Regions from separate parts of the Homo sapiens genome. Here region 1 is linked to region 2. The links come from fine-mapping of genetic effects on gene expression. A gene starts in region 2. The other region holds a variant in brackets. All regions are shown on one strand. Distances are between the middles of the regions.

Region 1 (5,387 bases), 30 kb before region 2:
GTGACACTAATGACTCCACTCCCCTTCCTGCTGAGATGTTTCCACTACTGCCGAGGCCCAGTGATCGCTCACTGCTACTGTGAACACATGGCTGTGGTGAGGCTGGCGTGTGGGGACACTAGCTTCAACAATATCTATGGCATCGCTGTGGCCATGTTTATTGTGGTGTTGGACCTGCTCCTTGTTATCCTGTCTTATATCTTTATTCTTCAGGCAGTTCTACTGCTTGCCTCTCAGGAGGCCCGCTACAAGGCATTTGGGACATGTGTCTCTCATATAGGTGCCATCTTAGCCTTCTACACAACTGTGGTCATCTCTTCAGTCATGCACCGTGTAGCCCGCCATGCTGCCCCTCATGTCCACATCCTCCTTGCCAATTTCTATCTGCTCTTCCCACCCATGGTCAATCCCATAATCTATGGTGTCAAGACCAAGCAAATCCGTGAGAGCATCTTGGGAGTATTCCCAAGAAAGGATATGTAGAGGGTGAGGTGGAGAAAGAATGGGTTGGCTTGTCTGCTGGAGTTGGAGACAGGCTATGGTAGAATGTGCACGGCTGCCAGGATCTTCATGTTTAGTTTTTTCTTGGAAAAAAAAAAAATGATGTCCTGAAACTCAGAGCCACCAGTCTGTTCAGGACTCATGGGTCTGTGTCCTCTGGTAGCCTGTGGATTGAATGTGCTGACTGTGCTGTCTTCTCACAGTGCCCTCACCCCTATCAGTAACTTGACAGAGACTTGACCCATGGGTCTCCAGGTGACTTCACCGAAAGACACAAAGATGCTTCCAACTTCATTTGCTGAAGAGAAGACTTTGAAAATCTGAGTTTCTTTTCTTAGTCATTGGGAATTTGGTGAACTATCTACTCAGGACCTGGGTGAGGGCCAACAGTATATCTGACATAGGAATCCTTCATTCATTCTGACTGGTGGTGTCCAGCTTCTGATGAAACACTCAGTGTTAGGAAGTTTGAAACATTCCAGGGCTGCAGGTTCTGAGTAAGACACCTATGCTTGCTAGAAAATCATTTTTTCACCTAAGCCAGTATGTGTATTCTTTTGCTTATATTTACCAATCCATCCTTATGTCCAATTCCTTTTATTAAGTACTTTGAATAAGACATGTCCTCTGGCTTTATGTTTCATGCAACTCTTTCTTTGCACATAGATGTATCTTATGTTTTCAAGAATGAGAATGGCTCATTTATTTACTAATTCCACCAAATCTGTGATAGGGGATGGGGACACATATACTAAATTAGGGGTGTCAGACTTGTGTATTTGTCCTAAGACAGAGAAGGAAATGATAATTATGATAGATTCTGTTCTCTGAAATTTCCATCCCAAGGCCCAGCATAATAAAAGAAGAGCAAGACCAAGCAGATAGGAGGCAAGAATATTATGTTTCTCTTTTCCTGTCTCATGTGAACTTACCTACTATATAATTCTCTATTAATCCTGACAACACAGCTAAGCTTTTCACACAAGCCCTGTATAAATACATTGTTCTGCTGTTATCTTCTGACCCACTTGTTTCCTCAGATATTATTGCTTAGAAATTATATATCTCTTTTGCTATCACTGTATCTTTCTCTATTTACCTGTCTATATTATTTAGCCTTGAAAGATAATTTCCAAGCCTATTTCAGGTGGGGTGTAGAAGGTTGGAAGCTGTCCAGGAGGGAAGAGTATAGCAAGAACCTAGAGTTTTACTTCCCCTTATATTCCACCTCTGCTCTTATAATTCCCTTTGACACAAAAACAAATACCCCAGAGAAATAATGTATTACATAAAAAATTGCTACATGCTAGATATATATATTTTTGGAGTATATGTGATATTCTGATATATTCATATAATAGATAATGATCAAATCAGGATAATTGGAATATCCATGACCTTAAATGTTTCTTTTATGCTAGGAACATTAAAATTATTCTCTTCTAGCTATTTTGATATATACAGTAGATTGTTTTCTATAGTCCCTACTGATTTCTTGAACACTACATCTTGTTATTTTTTATATCTAGCTGTATTTTTATACTCAATTAATCTCTTATCCTCCCTGCCTCCCTTCCCAGCCCCCAATAACCACCAATCTGCTCTCTATTTTCATGAGCTGTACTTAGCATCCACATGAGTGAGAAATACAATAATTGTCTTTCTGTACCTGGCTTGTTTCACTTAACTTAATGACCTACAGTTTCATCCACGTTGCTGCAAGTGACAGGATTTCATTCTTTCTTATGACTAATATTCCATGTGTATCATATTTTTCTTTATCCATTCAGATATTAATAGCACTTACATTGATTCCATGTTTTGGCTATTGTGTCTAGTACTAAATATAGGAATACAGATATCTCTTTGACATATTGATTCCTTTCTTTTGAATAAATACCTAGTAGTGGGATTACTAAATCTCATGGTAGTTATATTTTTAGTATTTTGAGGAACTTCCATACTGTTTTTCAGAGTGGTTGTATTAATTTGCATTCCCTCCAGAATTGTTGAGGACTAGATATGCTAATGGCAGCACAAGGAAGACTTTGTTCAGCCTTAGATGAAAAGTATTGCTTTTGGGTAAACCAACTGTGAAAAGTACAGGACAACATCACACGACTTCCAAATCAAGCCTCCATTTATTATGGGAACTTGCCTCTCAGGGTTGGTTAGATAGGGAAGGAG[C/A]CTGGAAATGGTTCTCCTGGGTTCTTTCCTTTTTAGGACCACTTGTTATTCTCCTAGTTTTGCACCTTTTTGGTTCAGGTCTTCTAAATTCTAAACCCAATTTGTCTCCTCTCACCCCCAGGCCATCAAGCTCCAGATGGTCCTCCGTGAGGTATACTGTCCTCTCAATATTCAAGAGGTACCCTTCTACAGGGAACCGCTAGACTGCTCATCAGTGGACAGAAAGTAGGCAAAATTCTGCCCCTGGACCTGGCTGGATACCACTTTTGCTAAGCCACTGAGTCACCCTCCTGCCCTGACAGCAAGAGGCCAAGACCCACAGAACCACCACCACCACCCCTCTGTCAGCAGAAAGCAGTTACAAAAGACTGACCTTCATCCATTTTCCTCCAAAGATTTGGGGTCTTGGGCTCTTGAGTGGGGGGAAACATTACAGGTAGTTAGACAGGCATGAGTGGGGCAGGAGGGGGCCCTACCACCTACCCACCAGGAATGTCTGACTATAGTCAAGTGATGGTTGGGCAGTTACCACACTGCCCCTCTAAAAATGATAACTTGGCCATCAGTGCCAGGGAGAGACAATCTCCCGATGGTCCAAGCTGCCACACTAAAGTGTTAATTGAATTCAGGTACCTAAGAGAGGCAACTTCCCAAACAGATGAAAATACTTGAGATTGGTAATCAGTTTCCAGTAAAATCACAGGAAATGAGCAAGTGAGCCTGGGCATGTTCATTAAAAAACAAAGTGGTGGAGTATGACCTTCCAGAGGCATTCTGTCAGAAAACTGAAGAAAGCCTCAGATGGGCATGCGTACAACTTCTTAAACACACTGCGCATGCTCACTTCCTAAGGGTAAGGAGGGCACTGTGCATTCAGGCAGCCCACCCTAAGGGAAGAATCATGGGAAAGGGGTGCAAGACCCTGGAAGTGGGCCATCTTATAAAGTCCCAGGATCAAGATTAAGTGGGGCACTTGTCCTTCAAGTCGCCTGCTTGGGTCTCTTCCAAGTGTACTTTCCTTTCTTTCCTGCTCTAAGGCTATTTTTTTTTTTTTTTTTTTTTTTTTTTTTTTTTTTTTTTGAGATGGAGTCTCTCTCTGTAACCCAGGCTGGAGTGCAATGGCATGACCTCGCTCATTATAACTACCGCTTCCTGGTTTCAAGCTATTCTTCAGTCGCAGCCTCCCAAGTAGCTGGGACTACAGGTGCCTACCACCATGCCTGGCTAATTTTTCTATTTTTAGTAGAGACGGGGTTTCACTTTGTTGGTCAGGCTCATCTCGAACTTCTGACATCAGCTGATCCACCCACCTCAGCCTCCCAAAATGCTGGGATTACAGGTGTGAGCCACTGTACCTGGTGCCTGCTCTAAAGCTTTTTAATAAACTTCCACTCCTGTTCTGAGACTTGCCTTGGTCTCTTTTTCTGCCTCATGACCCTCAAAATTCTTTTTTCTGAGGAGGCAAGAATTGAGGTTGCTGCAAACCTGTACAGATTCACTGCTGATAACTTGGATACCTTATATACGCATAACAGAAGCAGATATGGGACTAGATATTGGTGTTAGAACAACTAAGTTCCTCTTCAAAACTTAACTTTCTTGTTATAAGTTGTAAGATTGTAAATTAGCCCTTCTCCCTGCTTTGGCCTTCAAAGTCCTCATCTCACTACCTTATTTGGAAGAAGTTTCAAACTTCCTTTTTCTCTCTGTTCTGTGACCAACCCTTCCCTCCTTGCTGCACCCAGATATGCCTAGACATGCCTTCCCTCCTGCCTAGTTAATAACAGTCTCTCCCTCCCCTCCTCCCTTTGCAAATTGTGCATTTACTCCATTTGGAAAAGTTTAAGTCTTTTACCCTATTTGGAGAAGTTTAAGTCTTAGCCAATCTGGATAGCTTAGATTGTGAGGTCCAACTGCAGCCAATGGGGAAAGGACACAGAAACAGGAATTAGGGATAAAAACCCCTTTTCTCCTTTGTTTGGTGTGCTCTTGCAATCGTGGCTGATGCAGGTAGCACTGTTCTGCAGAAGTAAATTGCCATTCTGAGACAACTTTTTGCCTGAGTGCTGGTTCTTCTTTGTGGCATCAAGCATTTGTTTCTAACAATTTGGGGGCTCATCAGGGATCCCATTCTCCTCTGGGGAAGGGTCTGCAAACCCCTGTCATGAGGAGATGCATCCCGCTGCCTCATTGCAGTGGCCTCAGGAATAAGGAATTGAGCCCCACCCAGCGTGATGAATAAAACCAGGACTCTCAGCAACATGGGAGGAAAAGGCCTACAAATACTGCAGTGACCAGGTAACTGTGCACAGACTGTGGTAAGAAAAACCATAGGGGCAGTAAAGTATTTCTTGGTGGTCAGGGCATCCTGGAGGTTGAAAAGGTGTGGGTGAGCTGCACAATTGAGTGCGAAGCCAGTGTGGTCCTGATCTGCAGTTCTGTGGTCACCTCATATGGCTTACGCTGGATTCCTGTCGTGGGGTTTACATCAACATGCCAATGCTAAGAGGGACCTAAATTCACTCTGTGGAAGCAGCCAGAGGTGGATGAAGCAAAAGCAAAGGAGTGCAAGAAACCTCCAGTAAGGGGGTTGAGCCTCTAGAGTAGAGGGTACAAGAAATCTCTAGTAAGAGATGTTGACCCCCCACTTAGGGGTCACACTCAGGAAACACCTAAAGCTTCTAGGATGGGAAATAGCC
Region 2 (5,387 bases):
TCTTGTACTTCATTTTTTGTGACCCCTTTCATTGTTTCCTCAGAGACTACTGTTTAGGAAGCATCTCTATCTCTCTCTATATTAGTTATCTTTGAAACAATCTCCAAGCATTTGTCAGGTGTGGTGTAGAAGGTTGGAAGCTGTGCAGGAGACAAGAGTATTGCAAGAACCTACACTCTTGCTTCCCCTTATATTCCATCACTGCTCCCATGAATCCCTCAGACACAAAGACAAATGCCTCATGTAGTCAACACCTCTTGATTATTTTGTCTGAGAATAGTTGGGGCAGGTGGGCAGCTAAAAAATAAACACTAAGTTGTAACCACATATAAACAAACATGGAAAAGAGCATGAATTTTAAAAGGTATTTCCAACAAGAGAAATCTTATTTTCCCATTGACTTATACGGGGAATAACATCATCCTTAAGGTCATATCTATCCCCAGTGAAGAAATAATTTTGTTCCCAGAACAAGTCCAGTAGTATAAGGATCCCATAGACAGGTAATATATCAACATAACATTAGCACAGCCAGGATTAGTCACAAATAGTAAAAGGAAAATTACCTTCTCTATGAGCTCATTTGAGTTTAGCACACAATCAAAACATGAATAAGAAATATGAGTAGCCTACAGGCACATATAATTTTATACCCATATAGATGGGTATATAGATTAGGATAAAGGAAACTTGATGCAGTTATCTAGGCCTAGATGCAATACTTCTAATCACTCAAAAACTAGGTCATCCCAACATTCCAAGCTAGGACACAGAGGTGCACATCATCCTTAAAGTAGGATCAATGCTTGAGTATAGGATCCTGTTCTGCCTAGCAACCCTCACAACACCTTCCCACCTACGTGTTCCTCAAGCAAGGAGTCTTGGTGTTATCTTTGATTTCTTTTTCTCTCACAGCCTGGAGCTAATTTTTCAGGAATTCCCACTGGCACTTAAAAAATAGATATAAAATCTGATACATCTGATTTCTCTCCATATATATGATTAACACATTGATTTGGAAACACCATCTTCTCTCTGGATGCCTACAATAGCATCTGTAATCCTTTCTCTGCTTTCATCCTCATCATCTTGTGCTGTTCCCATTAAGTCAGAAGCAATATCTAAAAAACATATGTCAAATAATGTCAATTCACTGCTCAACCTTGGCTTTTATTCCGAGAGAAATTATGAACCTTTGCAAAGTGAAATCCTTACATGGCTGATATGGTTTGGCTCTGTGTCCACACCCAAATCTCCTCTCGAATTGTAATCCCCACATGTCAGAAGAGGGGACCTGGTGAGAGGTGATAGGATCATGGGGGCAGATTTCCCCCTTGATGTTCTGTTTAAAAGCGTATGGCCCCGCCCCCATTCCCTTTTTCCTGCTCCGCTGTGGTAAGACCTGCTTGCTTCCCCTTCATCTTCTGCCATGACTAAGTTTCCTGAGGCCTCCCAGCCATGCTTCTGTACAGCCTGCAGGAACTGTGAGTCAGTCAAACCTCTTTTCTCCATAAAAGTACCCAGTCTCAGGTAGTTCTTCATAGCAGTGTGAGAACAGACTGATACAAAGGCCTACAATGTTCTGTGTGATCACAGCTAACTGGAAAAAAAAAAAAAGAAAGCAGCACCCAGGTATGGGTAGGGCACATTATATTCACAGGATCAACAATAAGACTGATATTAATAGATACTTGACTTCAAAAAAAGCAAGTGAAGGCAGAATACAATTAATATACTAAAGTGGATGAAAGAAGAATTGCCCATTTAAAAACCTATTCAAATTGAAATAGAATTTTAGACAGAGGCCCGGGAGGTGAGTCATCTTTCACAAACAAAGATGACTAAGATAATTTTACAAATGAGCAAAAGTTGATGGAATGTGTCACTATATGGCCTGTAATAAAAGCAAAAATAAAAGTAGTTTTTCATGCAGAAAAAAAATGATCCAGATGGAAACATGAAAAACCTGGAGGGAATGAAGAACACCAAAACAAAGATGCATATGAATGTAAAAGAATCTAGATTTTACAAAAGAAAAGATAGGGTGGGGAGGATGTCAATGAATTAAACAGTCTAAGTGTTCCAATATTCCAGCAGTTATCTCCAGCATGGTTTGAGCCAATGGCCCCACTGCCCACTCCCCCACTCCATGTGCTTCTTATCCTGCTCCTATGATGTCAGGATTGCCCATTCAGAATGGAGTTGGGGGCAAATTAAGGTGCTTTGTTCACAAAAACACTGTCTATTCTATCTGGCTCTTGTCTGGCTTTTATCTGGCTTTTGCCATATTAGGTTTTGGTGAGGTGCTTTTCATACAGGCTGTATCCCCTTGGCCTAGCTGTACATTGTTAAAACTATGTAGGAATTCCACTTTATCCCAGCATCCCAAAAGATCAGACTTATCATGGAGGAGTGCTGAGTCCACACCCTTGAGGGCCAACTATTACAGAAGGGGAAGTTAGTTCCAGGGTACCTGTGTGGGAAGGGAGTGAGATGACTGAGTTACAGCGTTCTGAGATTGCTTTTAAAAATTATGGGGAATTAGGGTAGACAAAATCCATGGAGAACTCTAGTGAAAAGCATCTTCTCAGGTCCTTGAAAAATAGCACACATTAAGTCAGCTGTAGGTAGAAAGATCACTCTTTATCATTTATAGATGATTGGTAATTTCCTAATTATTAATAAGGAATCACATTCATAGTGGCCTCTTGTTTATCTACTTAGATCCTCCTATCCTTGTGAGTTAGAAAATATTGTAAAAGTTATCTCTACCTTAGAGATAAGAAAAATAGATCAGGGATCAGACAGGTGCCAGATCAAGTTCACGAGCTGGTTATTAATGCATATCTCAGGCCAATATGAAATATGAATGCAAAATAAAATGCCTAATGGATGACCTTGGCCTGGTCAGGCTGGACTCCCTGCCCTTTCAAGTCAGTTCTGACAGGAGTTGCCTGCAGTGTATATTTTCTGATGAGGCTGGCTTTCTTTGAAGACACTGTAAGGATAAAGAGTAAGGAGAGGCACAGCAAACACCAAGACACAAGCCAGCTCCACCTGAAAGTCTCACAGCCTCTGGCAAGTAGGGCATGACCCCTGGTAGGCACAACTCAGTGCCACTAGCTGGGGAGGAGGCATGGGTTGTAGGAAACAAGGATACAGTCCCCTTGGGTCAGGGGAAGTCCCCTTGCATCAACCCAGAGAGAGGAGGCCAGAGATGTCTCTGAGGACTCTGCTCAAGTGCAGCAGTTTCTGCTTCCACAGCCTTCTGGGAGAAGGGCAGAGGTTGGTGAGGATTAAAGCCAGCTGCTCGCTTCCCAGCTTCCTCCTTCTAAGACTCCTTAGACTGAAAGAGGAAGGCGGCACTGGTGCTGCATGAAGCTAATGAAAAGGGCCCAGGATTGTAAGTCAGACTGAGGACTGTGGATACAGCTGCAACTTAGGGAAATAGAAAACAAGTGATGTTATTGGGGTGAGCAGGAAGGTGGGAGTGAGCTGGAAGGTGGGGGCACTGTCAATTTCTTCCCATAGCCATTCCTGATCTTAGGCATCAGCTCTCCAACCCTGTTATTGCTTCTACTCTGGTCCTTCAATAGAGGGAACAGAAGTCTCGATAGTCCCACCCAACTGTTTGGTACACAAACTCCAGATGCTCTCCCCACCACAGAGGATGCCTGCTTCCGTCCTATGCCAAACACTGTGGGCCATCTCCAAGAAGTCTTAGTTGATTATTCCAGTTTGGATCTGTCACTTCTCACCTCCTGTCATTGCTTTTTCTAACCCCTGGCAAATGCCCCATCCCAGTTAAAGGGCTTCTGCATTAGTCAAGAGGAAGAAAACGAGGCCTGAACTAGAAAGATGGCAGGGAAAGGTAAGAAATACCTTATCTTTGAGGTTCTTCTACCAGAAGCAGTCCTGAAGTATCTTGATTATGTGATTATCCTTCCTTGTCTGGTTCTAAGTTTTTCAGATATGTCATTCTGATATCCTTTTAAGATAAAGGTATAGGCAACCAAATAGATTCAGTATTAATTGAGTCCATTCTGGGTACAGAGGCCTTTTTTAAGGAGAAATAGAAGATAAATCCTTTGAGCATGGACATCTTAGTTCTGAAAACAATGAACAGTCTGGACAAAACTTGCACTACAGAGGAGGTCTTAGTTTCTGGATATTAGGGGAAGAAGACTGGCTCCATTCACACTCCTACTCAGAGCACTTCATTCTGAGGAGTTGATTTTAGATGAACTTCAAAGGAAGTAAGATTTATGAACTATTAGACACCCTGTCTTTTCAGGAAGAAATCTGATAGAAGAGATGCCTTTTTTTCTTGTATGAAGATGGGTAGACAGCTCACAGGGTGGTTAGTGATGTTTAAAAGTTGAATGGAGGAATCTAGGGGGACATGGAGACTCAAAGTAAAACATGTGGGTTTTGTGGAAAATACATATTGAGATAAGGTAAAGATGCAGCAGGTTTGTGGGATTATTTCACAGTATTTTAGAAGAGTTTCTTAGACGCCAGGCATGTTTCTAGGTACTGATATGTACTTGAAAATAAAAATGTCTGTTGTCATAAGAGCTTGTTCCTGACAAAAATGCACAAACATTATGAATATTTAAAATAGTATTTTCCATTAAGAAGAGAATTTTATTCTGATGCAGGTAACAAAGTATTGTAATCGGGATGCTTAGAACCTCCATTCTGGATGCATTTTAAATGAGAAGATAACCCAAATTCTGAGCTTAAATCACATGAGGGGAGTAGTATTCTGAGAAATATGTCTTCCAATAATCTAGTAGTCTGTTTTATTTAGTGAAATGTTCCACACCTATGTATGTTAGAGGCTGGGTTTACAGAAGGAAAATAGGTAGAGTTTCTTAACTCCAGTCCCTTCACTTCATGATATGGTGGGTAATTGTTGAAGGATAAATATTGGAGAACAAAGTGGAACTTTGTGTACTTGTTAGGATTCTTTTGTAGCAGTAGTTGCTGGGAGATGCTGTGGCTTGAACAAGGGTGATGGTGTTGGAAGGGTGGAAGTGTTGGAAACGCAATGGGCAACGTGGAGATTTACTATGTAGGATGATCCAGTGTGCTTGCTGATGATTAAATATGATGCAGGAAGAAAAGAGAAGAATCCAGGATGACTTGATTCTAGGTTGAGCAACTGGTTGGGCAGGATGTTACGTTCTGAGATATGGGCAGCACAAGAAGAGAAGTAGTCATGATTTCTGCCTCAGGCATGGCAGGTTTGACATATCTGTGAGGAAGATATGTGGGGATATCGAGTATGGAGTTGGATATCCTAGTCTGGAGCTTACAAGGAATGTAAGGTATGTAAATTTGTGTTTGTTTCAGGATATGTTTATATTCTCAATGATCAACCA

Evidence for each region. PIP is the estimated chance that this variant, and not a neighbour inherited with it, causes the effect. A credible set is the group of variants that fine-mapping cannot tell apart.
Region 1: its variant is the best candidate, but not a certain one, in a credible set for the expression of OR52K1 in whole blood (TOPMed, PIP 0.62).

The regions. Positions count from the first base shown.
Region 1 is chr11:4,449,802-4,455,188 of GRCh38, forward strand. It overlaps OR52K2 (olfactory receptor family 52 subfamily K member 2), which reads left to right. Exons shown (of 1, transcript NM_001005172.2): 1 at 1-560. The coding sequence ends at 483. Among named protein-coding and RNA genes, the nearest start is that of OR52K2, 3.2 kb to the left of the region's middle. The variant C/A (reference allele first, on the strand shown) is at 2,689.
Region 2 is chr11:4,479,306-4,484,692 of GRCh38, forward strand. It overlaps OR52K1 (olfactory receptor family 52 subfamily K member 1), which reads left to right and starts at 3,341. Exons shown (of 2, transcript NM_001005171.3): 1 at 3,341-3,871.